Regions from separate parts of the Homo sapiens genome. Here all the other regions are linked to region 1. The links come from fine-mapping of genetic effects on gene expression. A gene starts in region 1. Each other region holds a variant in brackets. All regions are shown on one strand. Distances are from middle to middle. Region 1 holds the start of HOXA5 (homeobox A5). Region 2 has its middle 50 kb from the start of SKAP2. Region 3 overlaps SNX10 (sorting nexin 10).

The links.
Region 2: its variant is fine-mapped to the expression of HOXA5 in whole blood (INTERVAL, PIP above 0.99).
Region 3: its variant is fine-mapped to the expression of HOXA5 in sigmoid colon (GTEx, PIP above 0.99).

What each region holds. Positions count from the first base shown.
Region 1 is chr7:27,139,048-27,147,229 of GRCh38, reverse strand. It overlaps HOXA5 (homeobox A5), which reads left to right and starts at 3,549. Exons shown (of 2, transcript NM_019102.4): 1 at 3,549-4,184; 2 at 5,145-6,178. The coding sequence starts at 3,623. The coding sequence ends at 5,395. HOXA3 (homeobox A3) reads left to right here. Exons shown (of 6, transcript NM_153631.3): 2 at 7,044-7,147. HOXA6 (homeobox A6) reads left to right here. Exons shown (of 2, transcript NM_024014.4): 2 at 1,313-1,834. The coding sequence ends at 1,572. HOXA-AS3 (HOXA cluster antisense RNA 3) reads right to left here and starts at 6,866. Exons shown (of 3, transcript NR_038832.1): 1 at 6,691-6,866. RefSeq lists an enhancer at 7,142-7,720.
Region 2 is chr7:26,910,050-26,918,231 of GRCh38, reverse strand. No RefSeq gene overlaps it. Among named protein-coding and RNA genes, the nearest start is that of SKAP2, 50 kb to the right of the region's middle. The variant G/C (reference allele first, on the strand shown) is at 4,287.
Region 3 is chr7:26,345,590-26,353,771 of GRCh38, reverse strand. SNX10 (sorting nexin 10) reads right to left here. Exons shown (of 7, transcript NM_013322.3): 2 at 7,306-7,352. The coding sequence starts at 7,329. Among named protein-coding and RNA genes, the nearest start is that of LINC02981, 49 kb to the left of the region's middle. RefSeq lists enhancers at 5,162-5,311, 7,238-8,165. The variant C/T (reference allele first, on the strand shown) is at 4,253.

The sequences.
Region 1 (8,182 bases):
AAAGAGGAATAGAGAGAAAGAAAGGATGAAAGAACCAGCAAAGTTTCTTTGGCTTCTTAAAAGAGAAGAAAAAATCAGTTCCCAATGGGGCTATCAGGCCATGGCAGAGGAAGGGCAAGGCCCCAGTGTCCATGTAAGCTGACACCTTAGGGGAGGATGGGGGCACTGGCACGTATATGAGACCTGTGACAGGGACAGCCTGAAGAGAGAGAGAGGCTGGTGGGGAGGGACAGCCTGTCCATGCACCCTGAGTACCCTGCTCAGCTTCCCAAGCCAGAGGGCCTTTTGCACTGCGTCACTGATAAATACCCTTTGCTTCCCAACCCCCTCTCCTTTCTGCCCTTCAGAAACCCGTACAGAGAGGTGGCCATTTGGCCTCTTCCAGTGTCTCCCCAAAGCCTTGGAGGGCCACAGCCCCAGACTCAGGATTTTTTTCTCTCTCCTCCCTCATCTCCCCCGGCTTCTACTCAACTGCCCACTCTTAGCCAACTTCTGCCCTCTTCTGAGCCCATGCCTGAGCTTCATACACCTGTCTTGGAGGGACCCCCCACCACCCTTGGGGAACTTTGGCACCAGATCAGACAGCCCAACACAATCCTACATTGCCAGAAATCCTAGACTACCTATAGCTCCATCTCTTAGCCTCTGGTTTCCAAGGACTCCACAGGGAATCCCAAAGACTCCTAGGAATTCCCTAGGACAGAGCCTAATGCGGATTGTTAAAATTATAATGTTTTCCATTAACATCCACTTTATCCTTGGGGGAGTTCTGCATTTCTCAGAAGGGTCATATAATTTGGGAGAATGTGTAAAGATTCAAGAGGGCTGACCATTTTTAACTCTTCAAAAAATGTGTTGAGTTCCGACATGGCTGGTCACAGTAGCATCCTCAGAGAGACCACTATGAATTCAGAGTGTGTACACTACTTACATGGTTCCACACCACCCACCCCAGACACACACACACACACACACACAAACACACACACACACCCTGCATCCCCACAAAAACACGACCTGGGCATCCCAAATTAAGAATGCTCATTCTGTTATTTTGCTTGTAATGGTTTTCCTATGAGGCAGATTTTTCAAAAACGATAATGTCCACCCCAAGTCGTTATAGGTGGAAAACATCTCGCTTGGTATGAAATAATCTCCCATTCAGTATGCTTTGGGCCCCAGACATAGTGGGAGAGGCTGGAGTGGAGGCGGGGTGGTTTCTAGTCTGGGTGCCTCTTGTGGGAGGCACTGGGCTGACTGGGTCAACCCTCCAGGCCCTGGCTTACCGGCGCCCGGCCGTTTCTGCTCGTAGGTGCTGTGTATGGGAGCCATGGGCGCCGAGGCCGCCAGACCTACACGCGCTACCAGACACTGGAGCTGGAGAAGGAGTTCCACTTCAACCGCTACCTGACACGGCGCCGCCGCATCGAGATCGCCAACGCGCTCTGCCTCACCGAGCGCCAGATCAAGATCTGGTTCCAGAACCGCCGCATGAAGTGGAAAAAGGAAAACAAGCTCATCAATTCCACGCAGCCCAGCGGGGAGGACTCAGAGGCAAAGGCGGGCGAGTAGATGCCTGGGCAGGGACCAGGCCAGCGCTGCAACCTCCTTCGGCTTTGCCCCCTTGCCCTCGCCTGTTCCCCAACTTTTCTCCCCGCCTGCTCCCATCTGGGGGCTTCCGCAGCTTCAGGGGAGCCCGGAGCTTTGCAAGCGTCTGTGCATTTATTTCTTACAAAACAAAACAAAACAAAACAAAACAAAACAAAACAAAACAAAACAAAACCTCACACACAGCCAATACCAGCGGTGGAGCGGGGCGCACTGCACACACCCAGTCCCGCTCCACAAGGATGCCCAAACCGGCTCCGGAGTTCTGGGGTGCGCCCTGAATGCGTCTGGGGCTCCTGTGCTAGTGTCTCTGAGCTCCCCGACCTCGGGACGCGGGGCTGCTGGGGAGGAAAGAGCCCTGGGCCGAGCCCCGTTTCGTGTCTGGGCGTCTCTGCCTAAGTCCCTCGCCAGTAAGTCCCGAAGGGCATCATCAAATCATCTCTGGCCAGTGGAAAGAGGGGGTCTAAGAGCTGGAGCCCGGCCTTGTCGCGGCCTCCCAAGCCGCCTCCCAGAACAGGAAGGAAGCTCGAGGAACAAAGGGGGCCCCAACAGAGCCCAGTCTCTCGGTCCCGCGTGTGCAACCGTCAGTGGAAGAGAAGCAGCCTCAGCCGAGGCGAGTTAACCTGGGCGCGGGTGGAACATTACAGCCCGGGGTAGGCTCCCGGCTCCGGATTCCCGCTCCCAGCCTCCGATAGCGCCCGCGTCGCCGCCACAGCAGCGTTCAGGACCCAACGAGGGGCCCAGGGCCATGGGAGCCGCCAGAGTCCTGGCTTCCAGACGTGCCAGGGGCGCCTGCAACGCCGGGCCTCCAGCGGGGAGACTCCACTTGCCTCTCAGCTATATTTGTGATTTACTTGAGTCTTTCGGAGCCGTGGAAAATAACTACAGAGATACTAGGCACTGCCAAGGAATGCTTCCATTATCGCCCTCATTTTACTCCTGGAGGTCTAAGCAAGACCCCAGTAACCCGCCCCACGGATCCCCAGACCCCAGGCAGCCTCTGTGGCTGCAGGGAGCCTGGGCCCACTCGCTGGGTTCAAGGAGAACCCTCCGACTTGGGGCCCGGCTGGCTCGAGGAACCGGACCCTGTGATGAAGATTTTCCAGGCTGGATACGTAAGCAAATCAAATCGCAAACTAATGACACGAAAACCATATTCACACGAAAGAAAAATCGACTACGGTTATAAAAGTGTATGGAATTTGACCTCGCCTTGGAGAAACACTACACAAAAGCTATCTTTAATAGACGCCTGTCATTTAAGAGCGGCAGGGACACTGTCCCTCATGCGCTCGCAAAAACAGAGCCGTAATTGTAGCTGCTGCTGCTGCGGGCAGGATTTATTTCTCCAATTGGCTAAATGGCTTTCCCCCTTCCCCGAAGGTGATATCTGTATTTTCAAAATTCAGAGCTGCTGGCAGGACGGTCAGTACCGACCCCAACCTCGACACAAAAATAAGAGGGGCTGCAAAACGGGGGAAATAAAGTTGTTGTAAATAAAATGCAAGTCACCACCTCCCCCCAATCCTCTGCATCCTCGCCGGGCGCGCGATCGGCAGCTGACGGCCTAACAATTGGTACATCCTAATGGAACTGCGAGGGAAATGCAATAATTTTGCCATAATGGGCTGTAACCTCAATTCGACCCCGGCCCTTGCAGCCCCCGGTCGGAAGCTGGGCGATGAGCCCTGCCTCCAGCGGGTGGCGCTCGAGTCCGGCTGAACGGCGGCAACTGGCGGCGGGCACGCGCCCGGGGCGCGCGCGCCACCCCCCTCGCCTCCACCCAACTCCCCTATTAGTGCACGAGTTTACCTCTAGAGGTCATCAGGCAGGATTTACGACTGGACAACAAAAGCACGTGATTCGAAGTCGTACCCCATATTTGGGTGCCTACGTAGGAGGGAACCAAGTACATGTCCCAGTCATTTCCATAATTCATCATAAATTGTGCAAGGGTGCTATAGACGCACAAACGACCGCGAGCCACAAATCAAGCACACATATCAAAAAACAAATGAGCTCTTATTTTGTAAACTCATTTTGCGGTCGCTATCCAAATGGCCCGGACTACCAGTTGCATAATTATGGAGATCATAGTTCCGTGAGCGAGCAATTCAGGGACTCGGCGAGCATGCACTCCGGCAGGTACGGCTACGGCTACAATGGCATGGATCTCAGCGTCGGCCGCTCGGGCTCCGGCCACTTTGGCTCCGGAGAGCGCGCCCGCAGCTACGCTGCCAGCGCCAGCGCGGCGCCCGCCGAGCCCAGGTACAGCCAGCCGGCCACGTCCACGCACTCTCCTCAGCCCGATCCGCTGCCCTGCTCCGCCGTGGCCCCCTCGCCCGGCAGCGACAGCCACCACGGCGGGAAAAACTCCCTAAGCAACTCCAGCGGCGCCTCGGCCGACGCCGGCAGCACCCACATCAGCAGCAGAGAGGGGGTTGGCACGGCGTCCGGAGCCGAGGAGGACGCCCCTGCCAGCAGCGAGCAGGCGAGTGCGCAGAGCGAGCCGAGCCCGGCGCCGCCCGCCCAACCCCAGATCTACCCCTGGATGCGCAAGCTGCACATAAGTCATGGTAAAGCCAGCCTTTTTCTAAATCCACGCGACCGCGGGGACGCGGCTCTCGGTCCCCCCTCTCTTCTCTGCCGCCCTCTCCCAGTCTCTCTTGGTCTCATTTCTCCCAGCCCTGCGGAGCTCTCCTTGCCGTTCTCCCTCCCCTGCCTTCCTCCTTCCTCCTCTTCTTTGCGAGCACCCTGCGCTCACAAATAGTGGGGGAAATGGGCGTTCTCTGGGACAGTTTAGACGTTGGAAGGGGGAGGAAGCAAAAAACCCCTCTGGAACCCCACGCCTTGGGACGCGCTCCCGGGTCAGGCCAGCCGAGCAAGGCGCAGAGAGGTAGAGGATGGCTGTAGCAGCCGTGAATCGGGCTTGTCACGGCGGATAATTTATGAGGAGGGCTACGCTGGGGAAACAGCGTTACTAATTACAGCCCCCGAAAAGGGGCTTGGGGGAAAGAATCGAGGCGAGAGCCTGCAGGATTCTGAATTTTGGGGGCAGGAGGGAGAGAGAAGGAAAGGGAAGAAAAAGAAAACAGGCTCCCCAACCCTGCAGGCTGGAAACGGGAGGCGGCTCTCGGGGCTGGAACTTTGAGGGAGGGTGACCCGAAGGCCACTTGGGCGCTCAGGAAAGGGCCTTGCTTCCTGGGTTTCTGTGCGGTGGGCAGCCTGGGAGGGCTGTGCCTCCCGATCGGGGCGCCCGGGGCAGGGCGGAGGGGGCAGGAGAGGGGCCAGGGAAAGCCGGAGTCCGCCGGGACACGGCCCCAGCCTCAGATGGGCAGATTGTTCCCAGGGTCCAAATCGTATTGTTTTCTTTCTAGAAAGGAAGAGAGAAGGAAATTCGGGAGGGGTGTGCGGGCTGGTAGGCAGAACTTGTTGAGCTTTTCGCCTGGGTTCCCTGCTCATGACCCAAGCTTGTCCCCCTGGCGGACTTTGGAAGACAGGAGTTGGTGGCTAAACCGCTGACTTTTCTATTGCAGACAACATAGGCGGCCCGGAAGGCAAAAGGGCCCGGACGGCCTACACGCGCTACCAGACCCTGGAGCTGGAGAAGGAGTTCCACTTCAACCGTTACCTGACCCGCAGAAGGAGGATTGAAATAGCACATGCTCTTTGCCTCTCCGAGAGACAAATTAAAATCTGGTTCCAAAACCGGAGAATGAAGTGGAAAAAAGATAATAAGCTGAAAAGCATGAGCATGGCCGCGGCAGGAGGGGCCTTCCGTCCCTGAGTATCTGAGCGTTTAAAGTACTGAGCAGTATTAGCGGATCCCGCGTAGTGTCAGTACTAAGGTGACTTTCTGAAACTCCCTTGTGTTCCTTCTGTGAAGAAGCCCTGTTCTCGTTGCCCTAATTCATCTTTTAATCATGAGCCTGTTTATTGCCATTATAGCGCCTGTATAAGTAGATCTGCTTTCTGTTCATCTCTTTGTCCTGAATGGCTTTGTCTTGAAAAAAAATAGATGTTTTAACTTATTTATATGAAGCAAGCTGTGTTACTTGAAGTAACTATAACAAAAAAAGAAAAGAGAAAAAAAAACACACAAAAAGTCCCCCTTCAATCTCGTTTAGTGCCAATGTTGTGTGTTGCACTCAAGTTGTTTAACTGTGCATGTGCGTGGAAGTGTTCCTGTCTCAATAGCTCCAAGCTGTTAAAGATATTTTTATTCAAACTACCTATATTCCTTGTGTAATTAATGCTGTTGTAGAGGTGACTTGATGAGACACAACTTGTTCGACGTGTAGTGACTAGTGACTCTGTGATGAAAACTGTGACTCCAAGCGGTGTGTCCCTGCGTGCCTTTATAGGACCCTTTGCACGAACTCTGGAAGTGGCTCTTATAAGCGCAGCTTCAGTGATGTATGTTTTTGTGAACAAAGTTACAAATATTGTCCAAGTCTGGCTGTTTTAAGCAAACTGTGATCAGCTTTTTTTTTTTTTTTTTTTTTTTTGTATTTGTTTTTAAGGAAAAAATACTGACTGGAACAAAAAATAAACTTTCTATTGTAAGTTCTCTTGGTCTGGTTTGTGCCAAATAGTGAGCGGCTCTGTCTGCTTTTCTGTCTGTCTGTGCAGTCTTGGAAGCTGTTGGGTCTGAGGCTACCTGAGCAGATGACCTGTGCAGGGAGACCTCATACCAACACTGTCCCATCGCTTCCCTACCTCTGACCCATTGCAAAGTTCAGGGCAGAAGGTGGAAAAAGCTGTAGGCTGTTCCAAAGCCCCAGAACACCCTGTCCATCTCTGAGGAAACCAAGTTAACTTGCTGGGTACAAAAAAGAGAGAAAGAGCAAGAAAAAAGGAGAAAAAACCCAGGGCTTTGTTAGCCGCCCTCAGGCCACACAGATCCTGCCTCTTTCCTAAGGCTGTCCTAGGCCTCCACTTGCTGAAGACGCTGCTATGTCTGTCTGTGGACCCCAAACCCTCTGCCCTTAACCCATCCCAGCACCCCTTCCCCACTCTTCACCCGGGACCCAGTTGGCTTCTTTTGCTACAATTAATTTGCTACAAATTGAAGGTACTTACCCCATCCTAGCTCGATTGGGAAACTCCTCAGAGCAGCTAAAGCGCAACTAGAGATTTGCACATTTACCGACTGCTTACACTGATGCCGTCTTTCCTTTTAAAAGTTATAAAACAGTAAACTTTATAAGCCCCAGTTCCGGCTATATGACATTTGGGTGCCAAATGAATAGGGTTTTGTCTATGAATTAGATCGTAAAATCATCCATAGCACAGACAGATCGGCTCACTGGCTATAAAACGTCACGTGGGGCCATTAAAGTAAGTTTTATGGTTTTGGGGAGTTGACATCCAACATTATATACCACATAACATATAATCTCACTAACGCTGGACTCCATTTGACTCTTTTGCAGGCTACGTGTGCCGCCTGGCCATTCAAACTGTCAATTTTAGGTCCAGAAGTGTCCAAACCACAAGTTCTCAAAACTCTCTGAAAAATGGCTCCCTCCGAGTTAAGGTAAGCTCGCCTCCTGAGCGCTTTCAAGTTTATTTGTACTTTGGAAACTTTCTCTCTCTCTCTCTCTCTCTCTCTCTCTCTGGTTCAATAACTCAGGCTGCCTCTGAATTCGAAAAGGCAGAGCAAACTTTCCCTCTGCCCAAAAGAGCAGCGCCAGGAGCCAACTCTGCGGAGGCAGCAGAGTGAGCAGCGCCTGTGGCCGCGCCGCATCCCCAGGCCTAACTTTAATTGCAGCACAACCGCGGATGTTAATGACTTCCGCTGCTCCCGCCGGCGTGCAAAAAGATGATTTTTGTGTGCGAATGGGCCTGTGTGTGGGGACCTGGCAGGGCCGCACCCCCAGTCCCCCGCGCAATTGCTGGGCCGGCCGGGGCCAGCTCCTGGGGGTCGCGGAGCCCTGGGGTCGGGGCTGGGAGACAGTGGGGCGCCGGCCGCGGGCGCCGAGGGCCGCGCTGCGCTCAGGAGTTTGAAAGAAAGGCCGGGGCAGGGCCGAGGCGGACTCTGGCGGGATTCCTTACGGGGCTGTGGCAATATGTCTTCGCGGGCCGGGGTCATTTGGCAGGGCTGAATTGAGGCGGCGGCCTTCGGGGCCGGGTTTCAGGCTAGCTCGCGAGAGCGGGAGGGTGGCAGAGGCCGGCGAGGCTGGGGCTGCACCTCCAGGCTGGGCCCCCGGGTTGCAAGGTGGATCCTGGGCTGCTAGCGCCCACTGGACCCTGAGGACCAAGGATCCCCACCCTGGTGTGGGGGGGTGTTCAGGACCCCCTCCCCCGCACCCGGGACCAGGCCCTGAACCCTGTTTGCCTGCATGTTCTTTTTATTTCGGCGGGACTGTTCTCAGCCGCTTGTGAGTCTGAAGCAATAAACTTTATGGCCGGATTTAACTTTAGTCTTTGAATCCCCAGGCTAATTGAAAGGGGTTAAAGCGCTTTCTTTTCTTCCGCTTTGCCTTTCTTCTCCCTCTCTTCTTTCCTGTTCCTCTCCTTCTTTGTAGAATTAAAAACATCTACGCACAGGACCCTCAGAAGGCAACTTAGG
Region 2 (8,182 bases), 230 kb after region 1:
AATATTTCCAGGGAAAGAGAAAACCACCTTCTTTTGAAGTTCTATACCCTATTTAAAAATCTAACCCTAATCTAAACATTAGATTATCTCTAATTTTATGTTTAAAAATTTTAAGCCTCCCAGTTACAAATGCCAGTAATGTGCTGTCTTTATCTACAGAATAAGCATCATGAATAAAGCGCAAATGTATTGTAGAGAGCTGGAAGAGCCTCAGACACCAGGCAAGTAAATCAAAACAAAGTATTGTTAATGATTACCCTGGATACTTTAAGAAGAATGTAGAAGATCAATAGATCTACAGAACATTAATCCTTCTAGAAAATGTGAGCATCCTAGATTTTATTTGTTTAAGATTGATACAATTGAGTTATATTTTTGTGAGCCTAATGGAAGAGAATCATGTCATCTCTCAGGAAAGCAATCCTCTCAGCTGTGCTGACCAAGGTTCCTCTAATTCTTTCAACCAATGAAGTAGTTGATATATTCTTGTAAACTTTCTGCGGGCAATTTGTCCATTATTGGGCCTGAACTTGAACAGTTGGAGAAAGAAAGAAAAATTAAACAACTCCTCTTACATCAAAATAATATAACTGAGTCTCGTTTTAATAAAATCCTAGAGCACATCCTAGAGTCACCTAGCAAGTAACAGGTACTCAATAAATGCTCTTCTAGTAAATGGATGAAAATCTAAATTTGTGAAAAAGATCAATAAAACTGTGATCATTTACACTCCCAAAAGACTTATCTGCTCATTTGGTTTAGAATGCCGACTTTAAATGTGGATCTTTTCACTAGTATTACGGAATAAGAATGTGAGCTTTTTCTTTTGAAGTTACTTAGTCCTTTTCCCCATCTACAGGGTTATACTTATCACCTCAGCAGCTTATCACTTTATCTATCATGCATATGAAGAGAGGGCTTCTAGTTCCTGAATTTTCATAAGTACCAATACCTAATTTAAAAAAATAAAAATCTGCTGGACCACCATGATATATAGATTTAAAATGTGCTTTAATGTATTATGACTTAGCATACGTAGCTTTCCCTCCAACATCTGTATCCTGATTTGTAGTCTAATAAACCTTCCTGCTGCAGATGGCACGTTCATAGTTGTTCTGAGGTGTAATACATCAACATAGCATTTCTAAACAGAGAGCAATAATGAATTCAATTAGGGGAGGAAATAAAACATCGAGCCTTTTCTTATAATAAATCTTTTACTAAGCTTCCCACATCACATGTTTGCTGAGGAAATAATACATGTCATTCAGATTAAGGGTTATTGTAGACTGCTGAGGGAAACATGAAATTCTGGAGGTTTCAGCAGTCCTGTGAAACCCTGAAACATGGAAAGTGTACAAATTAGAAAAGGATGTAATATGTGACTAATGATACCTCTTGGGATACCTTTGGAAACCATATTTACTGTTATGATCACTAGATTCATTTAAGCTACAGGAGTTGAAAAGCAATACCCTAGTAAGTGAAAAACACCTCTGAGTTCATTAGATGTGGTTGTAATTTAAGCTCTAAAGGCCTTTTTCCTTGCTGTCATTCTTTATATTTCTGGAAATGTGGTACTTGAACTCCTAATAAAAGTAGTCTACATCATGTTCATATAATCTACAGTTCCTGGAAAGCACATTTACACCTCCACATCTGTAGCTAAAGCTGGGACAGAACAGAAACTTAATTCACCCCAGATGTCACCCACTAGAAGTTCTGGAGTAGGGCTGCTGTTCTTAGAATTTTCTATCCACTGATTATGTCTCAAGCAATGGTTTAAATATTCAACCCAGAGTCTCCAAGCCCAAATGTTGTAAACTGTTTCCATATACTATGCCAAGTGCAAAATTAATTGAATTCCACAAAGTTAATCCCCAATCCTGTTCCTTCATTTGTGGAAGGAAATAATGGCTATTTTGACATTATTTAGACAGATAATTCCAAGTCCTTTTGTCATAAGCATCTGAAAAAGAAATTTTGTTCTTCTGGCTTGGTAAGGTATCAGTCCATACTGCTTATAAAAAGATTACATGACAATTTCTTTGGAAAAAAAAAAGGTATATGTATATCATTTGGGCTGCTGATCACCAGCATAGCATGTGATGAATCAACATAATCAGACAGTCAATTTCTGTCTAATGATATTCTTAATCTGCAATAATATTCTTCGTTCTTTAGCTTTGAATTCTTCTACTCCTCAGTTGGTATGGAATCAGTGTTCCCATCCCCAGGTCATATACTTGATTGGAGGGGCTTTAACGGACAAAATAAGATCAGTGCTTTAACCATAGGCTTCTCCACAGTGAGCAGAAATCGAGGCGGGTACACCTTCATTCACACTCTAACCTATTTATAGTTTTTAGTTTTGCCTCTTAAATTCATGTATTTCTTGGCGTCTTGCTTAGAGTCACCTTTTTGACACATGAGTCCTGCCAGGTATGTGGGTTAGTGAGTCTGTACAATTTCTCAGGAGGCCTTGGTGATGCTGCAGCTTCTTAGTTGTAGTTCCAGGAAGGCTGCTGCAAGCACATTGCGCCTTATGAATACTGGAGCTTTCTCTAGAGAGAAACCATTTGTTGCTATGTCAGGTCAGATACAGAAGCCAGATTATCTAGGCTCAGTTGGTATAACTACTCATAAGAATTACTACTTATTAAGAATATCCTCAAGATTTATTAAGGGAACAATGTAAAAATGGCCATGTGAAAATAGTTTTGCGTTTTTGCAAAATTCCTGTTAAAGGCATTGCGCATCGTGTATTTAATAATAAATCTGAGGCCAGGCGCAGTGGCTCACACCTGTAATCCCAGCACTTTGGGAGGCCGAGGCAGGTAGATCACAAGGTCAGGAGTTCAAGACCAGCCTGGCCAAGATGGTGAAACCCCCATCTCTACTAAAAATACAAAAATTAGCCAGGTGTGGTGGCGGGCGCCTGTAATCCCAGTTACTCCAGAGGCTGAGGCAGGAGAATCGCTTGAACCCAAGTGGCAGAGGTTGCAGTGAGCAGAGATCGCGCCACTGCACTCCAGCCTGGGTGACAGAGCAAGACTCTGTCTCAAAAAAAATAAAAAATAAAATAAATCCGAGACTCATCCGCCCGACAAATTCCTCTCAAAATATGTCTCCTGAAAACCTGATGTGTATTTCTCTGTTAAACATTGAGATCTGTGAAACCCTTTGAATTCTCCCTTCTGTATTGACTAAAAGTTAGAGCTAAACTTCATGCTTAATGGTACTAATAATTTTATTCTAGTTTCCTGATATACATTTTCTTTCTCCTTCCTCTGTGGTGGTCTGTGGAATGGTGTTGGTGGTCTCTGAATGCCTGAGTTAGTATACAAAAGTGTGTGTTATGTGTTTTGTTTGTTTGTATATACTTATTTGCATTTTCTGGGGAAAGAGCACAAAGTTTTCATCAGATTCTCAAAGGGATGCATTATCTCCCCAAATTTAAGGACTATAATACTATCTGGTGTTTTATATTTCTGATCTCACCTTTAACTGTTCTGTCTTTATAACAATTATGTTTGCATTATAAACAACCTAAATCCTTTTTCTTTTTTTTTCTTTTTTTTCTTTTTTTGAGACAGAGTCTTGCTCTGTCGCCCAGGCTGGAGTGCAGTGGCATGATCTCAGCTTACTGCAAGCTTGGCCTCCCAGGTTCATGCCATTCTCCTGCCTCAGCCTCCCTAGTAGCTGGGACTACAGGCACCCGCCACCACTCCTGGCTAATTTTTTGTATTTTTAGTAGAGACAGGCTTTCACTGTGTTAGCCAGGATGGTGTCGATCTCCTGACCTTGTGCTCCACCTGCCTTGGCCTCCCAAAGTGCTGGGATTACAGGCGTGAGCCACCGTGCCCGGCCCCTAAATCCTTTTTCATGGGGAGAGAGGGAAGGAAAAGCTAGATGGCAGTAAAAATTAAACAAATACAAATACAACAGCATATTTTATTGTCAAGTACTCAGTCTGTTAGTAGGTATGATTTTGGGGGGCTTTCTCCCCACTAGAAATAATGGACTACATCGGTATGGTATACATCTATATGAAAATGTAATCTGATGTCTTTTAATTTTTTTTCCTGGCTTAAGAAAAAAAAAATTATCTAGACAGGTCTATCTAGAAGGTCTCCTATATGAAGCATCTCCTAAATACTATAGGGAGATTATGTACATAGAAAATTCCTTTACCATGTGACATTGATATACATATTGACTTGGGAAGGAAAAACTCCACTGTGTTGTACTTTTTTCTTTTTTTTTTTTTGAGGCTGAGTCTCACT[G/C]TGTTGCCCAGGCTGGACTGCGGTAGCGCCATCTCCGCTTACTGCAACCTCCGCCTCCCGAGTTCAAGTGATTCCCCCACTTCAGTCTCTCAAGTAGCTGGGGTTACAGGTGCCCACCACCACCCTTGGTGATTTTTTGAATTTTTAGTAGAGTCTGGGTTTCAGCATGTTGACCAGGCTGATCTCGAACTCTTGACTTCAGGTGATCTGCCTGCCTCAGCCTCCCAAAGTGCTGGTATTACAGGTGTGAGCCACCGTGCCTGGCCTGTGTTGTACATATTAATGTGAGATTTTAAAGACAACTCCACAGGACTTGCCTTGCTAATTTGGAATCTTGTTCAGAGAAAAAGACTTGATGAGAAAGGATCTCAGGAGATCAAATAGTAACACCATACCATTGGAGGAGCAGATATATTGCCCCTTAGAATAAAATATCTTCTATCTTGATTTTTCAAAATAATTTTTTATGAACATATTGTGAATTACACAGGACACCAACTCTGCTGCTTTGGGAGCAAAAAGACAGAGCTGACAGATGTAGATATTTGCCAGGAACAACCATGTGAATTTATAAATATTTTACAAGTGCAGCTTTCAGAAGAGTGACTTTTACTGCCGTATTAATGCAACTTGCAAATTTATAGTCTGGGCACTTGTGGGTTATGAATGTCCAGTATTCAAGGCTAGTGCCAAGAACATAGTTTATGTTTTGAAATTCTTTTTTTCTCTGATTACAGACTTCTTGGCTGTTAAGATCTACATTATAATTCAGCTGCACATGAGGTGCAAGGCTACATAATACATCAGTTTCCACTCCCAATGGCTAGACTCATAAATATACTCATTACAACACACTTCATGTGACAGAATGACATACAAAGCATAAAAATATCTCTATAGAGTAGAGAACTAGTGGTAGTAGAAGCAACAGTAGCATGATTCCATGCCTCTGGCCAGACCCATAATATGTGACCTAATATTATAATTATTTGTCATAATATAAAGAAAATTTGAATCATACGTTTTTAGAAATAATATCTTAGTATATATTAGATCAACACACTCATGAGTGTTGTCATATGTATTGAAGGCTACACTACTGAAAAGAATTTAGTTACTCTAATCTTTTGGCAGGGAGATTATGGAGGAAGAAGCACCACTGCAACTCTTTCCTTGTAAGTTTCTAAGTTGCTTTTCCACTGATTGTGCCCAAAGTAAAAGAGTCTTTCTAGCATTCCAGGCTCTGGAGAAAGAGAGCAGATTTATCTGGGCTTGAGCAAAAAACAGCCTGGGGTGAAATCTTAAAGGTGACCAGACTTTGGTCACATGTCAGAGGGTTCTCCTTTTTCAAGATGTTATTATGACCTAGGCAGAATTGTTGCTGTTGAAGAAAGTTAGCACTGTTGCCCAACCTTTCTGCCTTCCATTAAGTAGCTCTGTTACCTTGTACACATCACTTCTCAGGTTCATAGTTCCTCTTCACTGAAATGTTGAAGTTGTGCCATATGATTGCAAAATTCTTTCCAGCTGTAATTTTTTTTTCTAATGCATGTGTGCCAACATATGCAGATATTGATTAACAATACATTATAATCTTCAATATTAGTTATTTTATCAGTGTGCACATTTTCATTCTCTGAAACCCATCAGTGGCAAAATGCTTCACTGTTTTACTCCCCAATGTCCACCATTTCTTGCTCTGTATTAAGATTGTGTATTATTCCTAATAATCATTGGGACCAGATGTGGTGGCTCATGCCTGTAATCTCCGTAATTTGGGAGGTCAAGGCAGGAGGATTCCTTGAGCCCAGGAGTTTGAGGCCAGCCTAGGCAACATGGCAAAACTCCATCTCTACAAAAAATACAAAAATTAGCCAGGCATGGTAATGCATGCCTGTTATCCCAGCTGAGGTGGGAGGATTGCTTGAGCCCAGGAGGTCAAGGCTGCAGTGAGCTGTGATCGAGCCATTGCACTCCAGCATGGGTGACAGAACAAGACCCTGTCTAAAAAAAAAAAAAAAGAGGTTATCAGGAGTGTAAACTTAAATAATGGGGAATCTTGTGTTCTTACAAAAAAATTTGTGATTAGTTCAGTGAGTAAAGCTTTTCCAAATTACCAAAGCTAAATAAATAAATAATCCTTGTTTATTCCAAGGCTTAATCCTACTGAGGCCCCCAACCTGATTCCTGATTAATCACGCAGCAGACAGCAGCTTCTTCTTCTTCTTCTTTTTTTTTTTTTTTGGAGACGGAGTCTTGCTGTCTTGCTGTGTCACCCAGGCTGGAGTGCAGTGGCGCGATCTCTGCTCACTGCAACCTCCGCCTCCCGGGTTCAAGTGATTCTTCTGCTTCAGCCTCCCGAGTAGCTGGGAATACAGGCATGCTCCACCATGCCCGGCTAATTTTTGTACTTTCAGTAGAGATGGGGTTTCACCATGTTGGCCAAGCTGGTCTCCAACTCCTGACCTCATGATCCACCCACCTCTGCCTCCCCAAGTGCTGGGATTACAGGCATGAACCACCATGCCTGGCCAGCAAACTGCTTCTTATTAGCTGACCTTATACATTTCAATGAAACAGACTGTGAAAAATGACACATACACACAGATCCCAGGCAGTAATTATATTAAAAAATACTTTGTTAATTGTTTTACAGGCACCATTAGCCTTAAGAATAAAATTCCGTCAACAGCAAATCCTTTTTCTTTCATTTGCTTCTAATCTAAGGGATAAACATAGTCAAATGCTGTTATTGTTACCCAGGAAAATTTCAGCTTTAAAACTGATTGAATCCATTTTTTTTTATCTTATTATCTTAGAACATAGCAATTTTAAAGAACACAGGTAGAATGATAGCAGTCCATGATCCAGACAGTGTCATATATCCCTTGTTTGTTTTCTTTCTTTTCTCTTTATCTTTATCCTGAAATTTCCTTTCTGTTCTACTGTGAAAGTAAAAATCTGAAAGGAAAATAATTACCTATTGATACTCTTCTAACACAGCCACATGTTCACGTGATAAATGAAACATTACCACACAAAACTGCTAAAATGACATTCTTATTGGAGGTCCAATTTACTTAATTTTATGTCTTCCAACTGTTAAGACAAGGGTCACTCATTCTGTAAAATTAATGGCTGAAATAAATTTAGAATTTAAAAAGCATAAGGAAAATATTTCTTTGCCCAATGTATGGCCAACCTGTGGAATTTATTAGCCTGGGAGGTCATAGATTCAGTCAAGAGATGAATTAGAAAAGCTAGATAATTGTATGACCAGTCATAATACTGTTAGTTATGAATACTAACAAAAGGTACTAATAGAATCTCATGCTTCAGGGTACAAGCTGATCTCCGCTCACTAGGAGCTTTGAAGGACTTCTCTTATTTCCTTATGATGCTCCTCTGAGCAAGTGGCTGGATTCACATTGAGGTTTTACCTCTTTTTGAAAGTAACTACTATTGGGAACAGGATACCACATTTAGGTCACATTGGGGTTTTGTTGTTGTTGTTTGTGCAACAGCATCTTGCTCTGTCACCCAGGCTGGAATGCGGTGGGGCGATCATGACTCACTGCAGCCTTGACCTCCTAGGCTGAAGTGATCTTCCTGCTTCAGCCTCCTGAAGTGCTGGGATTACAGGCATGAGCCACTATGCCTGGCCTGTGTTTTTTGTTTTTTGGCAATGAAAACCACAAATGTCTGCTAATACGATACAAAAAGAGCAATGAAATGATACGTGAGTTTAAACTTTTTAAAGAGTTTATTCATTAATTCAATAAATATTTATTGAGGGCCTATCATGAACCTATCACTGTCCTAGGTGTTTGGAATACAACAAGGAGAAAAACAGAGAAAAATCCTTGCTTTCATGAAAATCCCCCCCATTATTTTGT
Region 3 (8,182 bases), 790 kb after region 1:
TTATAGAATTTACCAGTGTGGGCTGGGCGTGGTGGCTCAAGCCTATAATCCCAGCACTTTGGGAGGCCAAGGCAGGCAGATTACCTGAGGTGAGGAGTTTGAGAACAGCCTGGCCAACATGGTGAAACCCCGTCTCTGCTAAAAATACAAAAATTAGCCAGGTGTGGTGGCACACACTTGTAATCCCAGCTACTCGGGAGGCTGAGGCAGGAGAATTGCGTGAGTCTGGGAGGCGGAGGTTGCAGTGAGCAACTGAGATCGTGCCACTGCACTCCAGCCTGGCCGACAGACCAAGACTCTGTCTCCCCACCAAAAAAAAAAAAAAAAAAAAAAAGCATTTACCAGTGTGTTAATCACCAGAGTGCTATTCAGGACCCCCATATAACAATTTCACAACTAAAATCTAGCACATTTCATATACTATATTCTTTACAAATAACAAAATAGAAGGGCAAAAGGAATATATCAAGCAACCTTTCTTTATTTCCTAATAACAGCTGTAACAAATAACTTAAGAGACATATGACAAGGGATATTACTTGCCACTCTACAGCATGGAGTATGTTTAAATACCATCCTCTGGTGGTACTGAATGATGATTTTTTGAGAAGCTTTTATTACTTCAGGATAAACAACTGTGAATGAGATTTAGCTAGACCTGCCTTTTACATGACTTATAATAGCTCACAATGTTGCAAGTTTCTTTACACAAGTAGTATCCCAAATCAGCGAGTTACCTTTTCATATCTTGTAACACATCAGGAAAAGTGCAGAAAAAAAAAACCTCCTCTTCTGCAGTAAGAAATAATTGGCATCCACAAGGATGCAATCAGCAAAATCTAGAATGTGAAAACCTCCATAAGGCAAAAGATGCAATTTCTTCCACAAATAAATTGCAAAAGGGGGAAAAGAGAGAATTAAAGACTTTAAACAATGTATCAACCAAATGCAATGTGTGGTCCTTATCTGAATCCTAATTAAATAGAGAATTAGAACAACCAAGTATATAATTTTTTTCAAAATAATCAAGGTAATTTGCACATTGAATATTTGATGATATGAAGGAATTGTTTAATTATTTAACATGTGATTATGTGGTTCATTTTTTAAAAAGGTCATTTGTTAGAAATGCATACTGAAATATTTACAGATGAAATTATATAATATCTAGAATTTGTTTCCAAATAATTGACTGTGGTAGCAGGAGGAAATAGGTGGGGTGGGGATATAGCTCGGCTATGAGTTAATAATGAGTTAGTAAATTGTTGAAGCTGGTTGGTAGGTACACATATGGGGGTTCATTTTATTATCATCTCTACCTTGCGTATTTTTTTGTTTTGGGGGTTGAAGAGGCAAGGTCTTACTCCATTGCATAGGGTGGAATGTTGTGGCTATTGATGATCGCTCAATGCAGCCTTGAACTCCTGGGCTCAAGTGATCTCGCCTTGGCCAAGTAGCTGGAATTACATGCATGCACCAACACACCCAGCTTTATGCAATTTTTTAACACAAACAGGAGCATAACCTACATTTATAAATACTATTTTGTTTATTGGTTTATTCACTATACAATCTTTCAGAATCTTTTTATGTGAGCATATATATGTCAATGATATTTGTTTTAAAATAAACTTTTTATTTTAAACAGTTTTAGATATAGAGAAATTATGAAGATAGTACAGAGTGGTCCTACATATCCCACACCCAGCTTCCCCTATTATTAACATTTTATATTAGCATGCTGCCTTTGTAACAATTCATTAATCAATATTGACATGTTATTATTAACTGAAGTCCATACTTCATTAAGATTGCTGGTCGGGCACAGTGGCTCACACCTGTAATCCCAGCACTTTGGGAGGCCGAGGCGGGCGGATCACGAGGTCAGGAGATCTAGACCATCCTGGCTAACATGGTGAAACCCCGCCTCTACTAAAAATACAAAAAATTGGCTGGGCGTGGTGGCAGGCACCTGTAGTCCCAGCTACTCAGGAGGCTGAGGCAGGAGAATGGTGTGAACCCGGGAGGTGGAGCTTGCAGTGAGTCGAGATCGCACCACTGCACTCCAGCCTGGGCGACAGAGAGAGACTCGGTCTCAAAAAAAAAAAAAAACAAAAAAAAAAAACCAGACTGCTTGATTGCTTTAGTTTTCACCTAATGTCATTAATCTGTTGTTCCAGGATCCCACTCGAGATACATTATATTTGGTCATTGTGTTTCCTTGGGCTCCTCTTGGCTATGACAGCTTCTCAGGCATTCCTTGTTTTTCATGACCTTGACAATTTGAGGAGCCCTCGCAGGTATTCTGCAGATTTGTCTGATGTTTGTCTCATGATTAGATTGGTGTTATAGGTTTTTGGAAGGAAGGCTACCTATTTCAGAGGGTAAAGTGCCATTTTTATCACTTCCAGGTGATATCACTTCCACATGCTAGCAACATAACATCACTGTGGGTGTTAACAGTGATCACCTGGCTGAGGAAGTGTTTGTCAGATTTCTCCACTGTAAAGTTATTCTTTGTTCATTTCTTAACAATTCAAAGATGAATTTATGTTTACTAATTCTTTCTTTTCCTAAGCCACTTCTAATTTAATCAGAGCTGGTGAAGTATTTCTTGAAATGTGTTAGAACACTGAGCTGGAAGAGTGAGATATTAAACTATAAATTCTGTATGATCTCAATTTTCTAAAAATGACATATACATATATATAGAAAAAGACTAGAAAGAAATAGCTCAAAGTTTTATTTTTTCCTGTATACTTTTCCAAAAATGTTCTGCAGTGAACAATTATTTTAAAATCTGGAAGAAGAGTTAAGAAAAAAAAAAGGAATGAAGATCTTTCTCTGGGACAAGCTCAGAAAAAAATATCAGAGTCCTCACAGTACCTGTAACACTAATGTAGCGCTCAGAATGGTAACAGCCTTCTCTGAAACCTGGTGTGTATGTGTGAAGACAATATTCCCAGCTGCCTTTCTTTGCTTACAGAAGACTGTAAATTGCCTCTTATGGAAACTTAACTATTTTTTCAAACAGGAACACTTAATAACTGAGTATAACAGAGACTGAGAAAAATGGAGGGAGGGAGGGTGGGAGGGGAAAAAGGGAGGAAGAAAGGAGGGAGAGAGGAACAACAAATTTAGGTTTTGGGGAGTGAGAAAATGTTCTGTCTTGTTGCTTCCCATCAAAGTACCCAGCATCACAGGATCCTAGCTAATATTATTTATTTGTTAAAGGTATTCATCAGTTCCAGACCAGTCAGTTTCCAGTCAGTTTCCGAATATCAAAAGCATGCTTTCCTAGAGGAAGTCCAAAATATTACCATGGGTCAGCATAAGCATATCTTAGACATATTAATATTAACCTTAGGGGCTGCTCATCCAAAATGGCAACACATCCCTCCCTGCCGGCTCTCCCCATAGTGCCCCATCTCCTCCCTCAGTGGTGGGGTCCTCATGGTTTGTGCAACTCTCTGGGGCCCACTTCGGCCTGTCCTACTCAGGATATTCCCTGCCAAAGAAGTGATGGATATATCATCGCTAAGGTGTCAATAACTGGAGTTGCCTAGAAGCTGCTGTTATACCTAGTATGAAGCATGTGCATTTGGGAAGGGGAAAATCAGTTATCCTAAAGGGATGAATCTCTAAAAGTAGAATGCAGCCATCATGATCCAGGAGAGCAGGGGAGATATGCACGCATGCACACATACATTCAAAAGGGGTTTCAGCCCACACTTCAGGTCACATCACACAGGGAGGAACAGTCTAGTTACACCAAGTGAGCCCTGTGCCAAGGAAAGAGCCCAGTGCCCTTATGGAGGAGGGAGCAGGCGCTTGGGCAAGAATGTCCGACTCCATGAAAGGGACTGTGTGCAGCTGGAGCAAATGCTCACTCATACACCCCACAAGATGAGTTCAGCAAGGCTGAGGCAAGCATCCTGAGTAGTGTAGAAAAATCAAACAGCTCACTCTGGACATTCGAATATAAAAAGAATAAAAATGCCTAGCTCCACAAAAGACACTGTCTGAAATGCGCTTCCTGTCACAGCCACCTGCCTTTCCATTTGGAGTCTGGGTTCTGTCTCATTAAACAGAAGAGTTGATTCAGTTGGGTCCATCTAATTATTCTTATTAAAATATGTAACCATAATATTTTAATTGTAAATTAAAGTTGCATGCATGAATGACTCTGAATTCATTTTAATTTCACAATGGCCCAATGCCAAGGCCTTTTTATGGAGAAGATCCATCAGCT[C/T]GGATACTGCTCTCCTGGGAATTCAAACCAATGTGCAAATGGAACATGCTTAACTAACAAGGGAGATTCTCACTCCCTTTTCTCCTCTTTCTAGATTTATTACAGTCATAAAGCTGTTTTAACAAGAGAGACTACATTTGATTCCTCACCCCCAAAATGTAAAAAAAAAAAAAAAATTACTAAATTTTAAGGTCAGTACTACCATTTAGACAGAACCAAGATGTCACTCCCAGGCTGTATGAATCTTGTTACGAGGATGGTAAATAAATCTCAATTCACGTGCCAACCTCATGATTAATTAGTAATGTTTGCTGTGGGTACTGAGAGAAAAGTGCTTCCATACTCACTGTACCCTTGGTCTAGATTCCAAAACAATCAGTCATACTGCATTTGGTCCTTACATATTCGATTAGGTGGAACCTGAATTACTTTCCACTAAACAACCAGACACTAGGATATGAAAGGCTTGACCTAAACCTTCTCTATTTCTAACTGGCATTGACTACAGGGTGCTGTTGAGGAGCTGATTAGATAAAAATATCTTTTATAGTTAAAGGTTTAGAAAGCTTCTTCTTGACTTCTAAGCCAATGCCTGAAGGATAAGTAGAAGTTAGCCAGTCAACACAGTACAAAGGCTAGGGGAAGAGATTATTCCAGGCAGTGGAAAAAAACATCTGTAAAAGTCCATGGGGGTCAGAGTGCATGGAGCATTCAAGGCTCTAAAATAAGCTCTGAAATAAGGAACAAGAAGTGCACTGGAGTGGTAGGTGGGGCACAGGAAAGAAGTCTGGAGAAAGAAGGAGGTTTGGATCCTGCAGAGTGCTAGAGACCACGTGCAGGTGTTTTGACTTTGTTCTAAGGGCAATGGATTTGACGCCAGGCGATCATTCCAGCTACACCAAGTGACTCTGCACACTGCCACACATGGGTGCTGGGAGGATAACTCCGCCCATGGCTCCTTTGGGAGGACGACCAGAAGCTCTGTCCTTGGACCCCACCTGACTGCCCATGCGTCCAGCTCTTGCTTTGGCTGGTTCTCGTTTGTGTTCTTTCTCTATAAAAAGCAGCGTCTGTGAGGATAATAGCTCTGAGTTCTGTGAGTTTTTCTTGTGAATTATTAAACTTGAAGGTGGTTCAGGAAAGCCCCAAGCTTGCAATTGGTGTTGAAGACAAGGGCAGTCCTGTGGGAACTATGCCCTTAACCTTGCAGTTTCATTAACTTCATGGGCGGGTATTTCCCGGAACAAGCAGCTTGGTCTCAGGATTACTTAAAATGAGATGGAAAAAAGCATGCCTGGTATAGGTATTGTGGAAGGTCACCTCTAGGGGTGGAAGTGAGGGGGACTGACTGGAAAAGGGCACACGGTACCTTCTGGGGAGCCAGAAACATCTATACTTTGATCTGAGTGGTAGTTACACAGGTATATAAAAATCCATTTAGGCCATGATCAGTGGCTCATGTCTGCAATCCCAGCTCTTTGGGAGGCTGAGGCAGGAGGACTGCTTGAAGCCAGAAGTTCGAGACCAATCTAGGCAACAAAGAGAGACCCTGTCTCTACTAAAACAAAAAGACAAAAATCCATTGAGCTACATACATAAGATTGGAACACTTTATGCATTTTACTATACATATTATAGCCCAATTTTTTTGTTTTTTGTGGGTTTTTTCTGAGACAGAGTCTCGCTTTGTCACCCAGGCTGGAGTGCAGTGGCATGATCTCAGCCCACTGCAACCTCCACCTCCCAGGTTCAAGAGATTCTTGTGCCTCAGCCTCCCAAGTAGCTGGAACTACAGACGCATGCCACTACGCCCAGCTAATTTTGGTATTTTTAGTAGAGATGGGGTTTCCCCATGTTGGACAGGCTGGTCTCGAACTCCTGACCTCAAGTAATCCAACCACCTCGGTCTCCCAAAGTGCTGGGATTACAGGCATGAGTCATGGTGCCCAGCCAATTATTTTGGTTTTTGGTTTTTCGTTTGAGACAGGGTCTTGCTCTGTCGCCGGGGCTGAAGTGTGGTGGCGTAATCTTGGCTCACTGCAACCTCTGGCTCCCAGGCTCAAGCAATCCTCCCACCTCAGCCTCCTGAGTACATAGGACCACAGGCACAGGCCACCATGCCCGTCTAGCCCAATTTTTAAAAGTTAAAAAACAAACCAAAACACTGCCTTTGAAAATGGGGAAGCCCAGCCTAGAGTTAAGGGATGCAAGCAAGGCTGGACTGCTGAGAAGAACCTGAAGCCAAAGATAGGGCTGAAATTAAAGATGTGAGAGCTAGCAAAGGACTTTCTGGAAAGATTCTCTGAAATAAATGGTTTCATGCTTTCCACTTGTGCAGGGTGAGCTGGGACCATGTGACTGTGTGAATGTGTGACTCGTGTGCATGTGTGTGCACGTGTGTGTGCACACTCCCTAGACAGGCCCCTGTGCTGCTTCTCCACTTCATCAGCCTCACCAAGTGATGATGTGCACTGCACCACAGCAGGCAGGGCAATGCGTACTGCCAAAGGAGGGACACTCAGCCGGGGCTGGCATGAGGGCTGTCCTACGCTCCTCCCAGTCAGGGAGAGGCTCAGGGGGCGGGCATGGAGGCCTGGGAAGCCAGGCTGCAGGCAGAAGGGCCAGTTTTGCCAGTGTTGTATGAAACCAAGCCCAGGCAACAAGTGGGGCAAACCTGAAACTAATGGCAGAAATTCCCCTGGGCTGCTACCTGAAGGAAGGAGAATTCAGGGATGAGTCAATGGAGTAAAAAAGCAGGAAGGCAGACTGGATGGATACTGCTCCAAGCCAAGGGGTGGGAGGCAGAGCCTGGGAGAATTCTGAGTCACGAGCTGTGGGTGGGAATGTGCTCCACAGCTGAGTCACTGGAACCCAAAATGAAGGCTATGCAGGCACCAATGGTGGGAGTAGAGGAGCAGGTACAGGAGGGTGGGCCTTTGGTCTTTCATGAAACCTCCTCAAGCAACCCATGGGTTTATGGTTCGCAAATGAAGAACTAACCTGTGTGAATCAAAATAAGTGGGTTATTTATTTTTGGATTTGTGATGACATACCTCTTTCTGTTGTTCCGGAAACATCTTCAGCACAGGACACGATCAATCTGAAAAATAAGATATCCACACTGGGTCATTTGGAACCTCCAAACTGGAGTGGATACACCACTCATGGCCTCCCACCCAAATCCCCTGACAGAGCCCCCCCCGCCCCACAGTCCCTGACATGTGAGCCTCTGCTCCTCCCACGCTGCCCTCTCCTGCTGGCAGGACCAAGGTGAACATCAGTCCACACCAGGGGTTAGGAGTCTGGACCCCAAAGAGTCCAAGGCAGCTGGATGATGACAGACCTTCAAACCGCAAGGCCAGCCAGTCAGGCTGGGGCTGGAGCCTTAGTGAATTGGCGAGGAAGCTGGAGATGCCGGGGAGCAGAAGCCATGTGCGGGGGGATGCTGGCTGGAAAAGACGCGCAGAGAGATCCACCACCAGAGGCAGCCCTGACGCTTTTACCGGAAACTCAAACCTTCTGGGATCAGGCCCTTCCTGTGACACTTATATTACTCCAGAGGTCACATAAGAGATGGTGTGGCCCTCAGCGGGATAAAGCCAGGACCTTGACTCTGACCTTCTGAGCAGTGCAGCCAGCCTGTTGTTTGATTCCAGGCCCTGCATGTCTCTGGGGTTGTCAATTGTTCTTTAAACCCACTTGGTATGTAAGCTCATTAGATTTAACACCTGCTCCCTGCCAAAAACAAAAAGCAAATTTAAATTCCCTGCCTATATCCACACATATGTATTCTTACAACTGAGGGTGACTATGACTGCAGGTCTACTATTTGCCTTCACTTTGATAATATCAGTATGTGTCTGAGCCCACTTTCCGGGTCCCTATTATCCCCCACACGTATTCCCAGAGTCTCTATACTCATGTCACTGG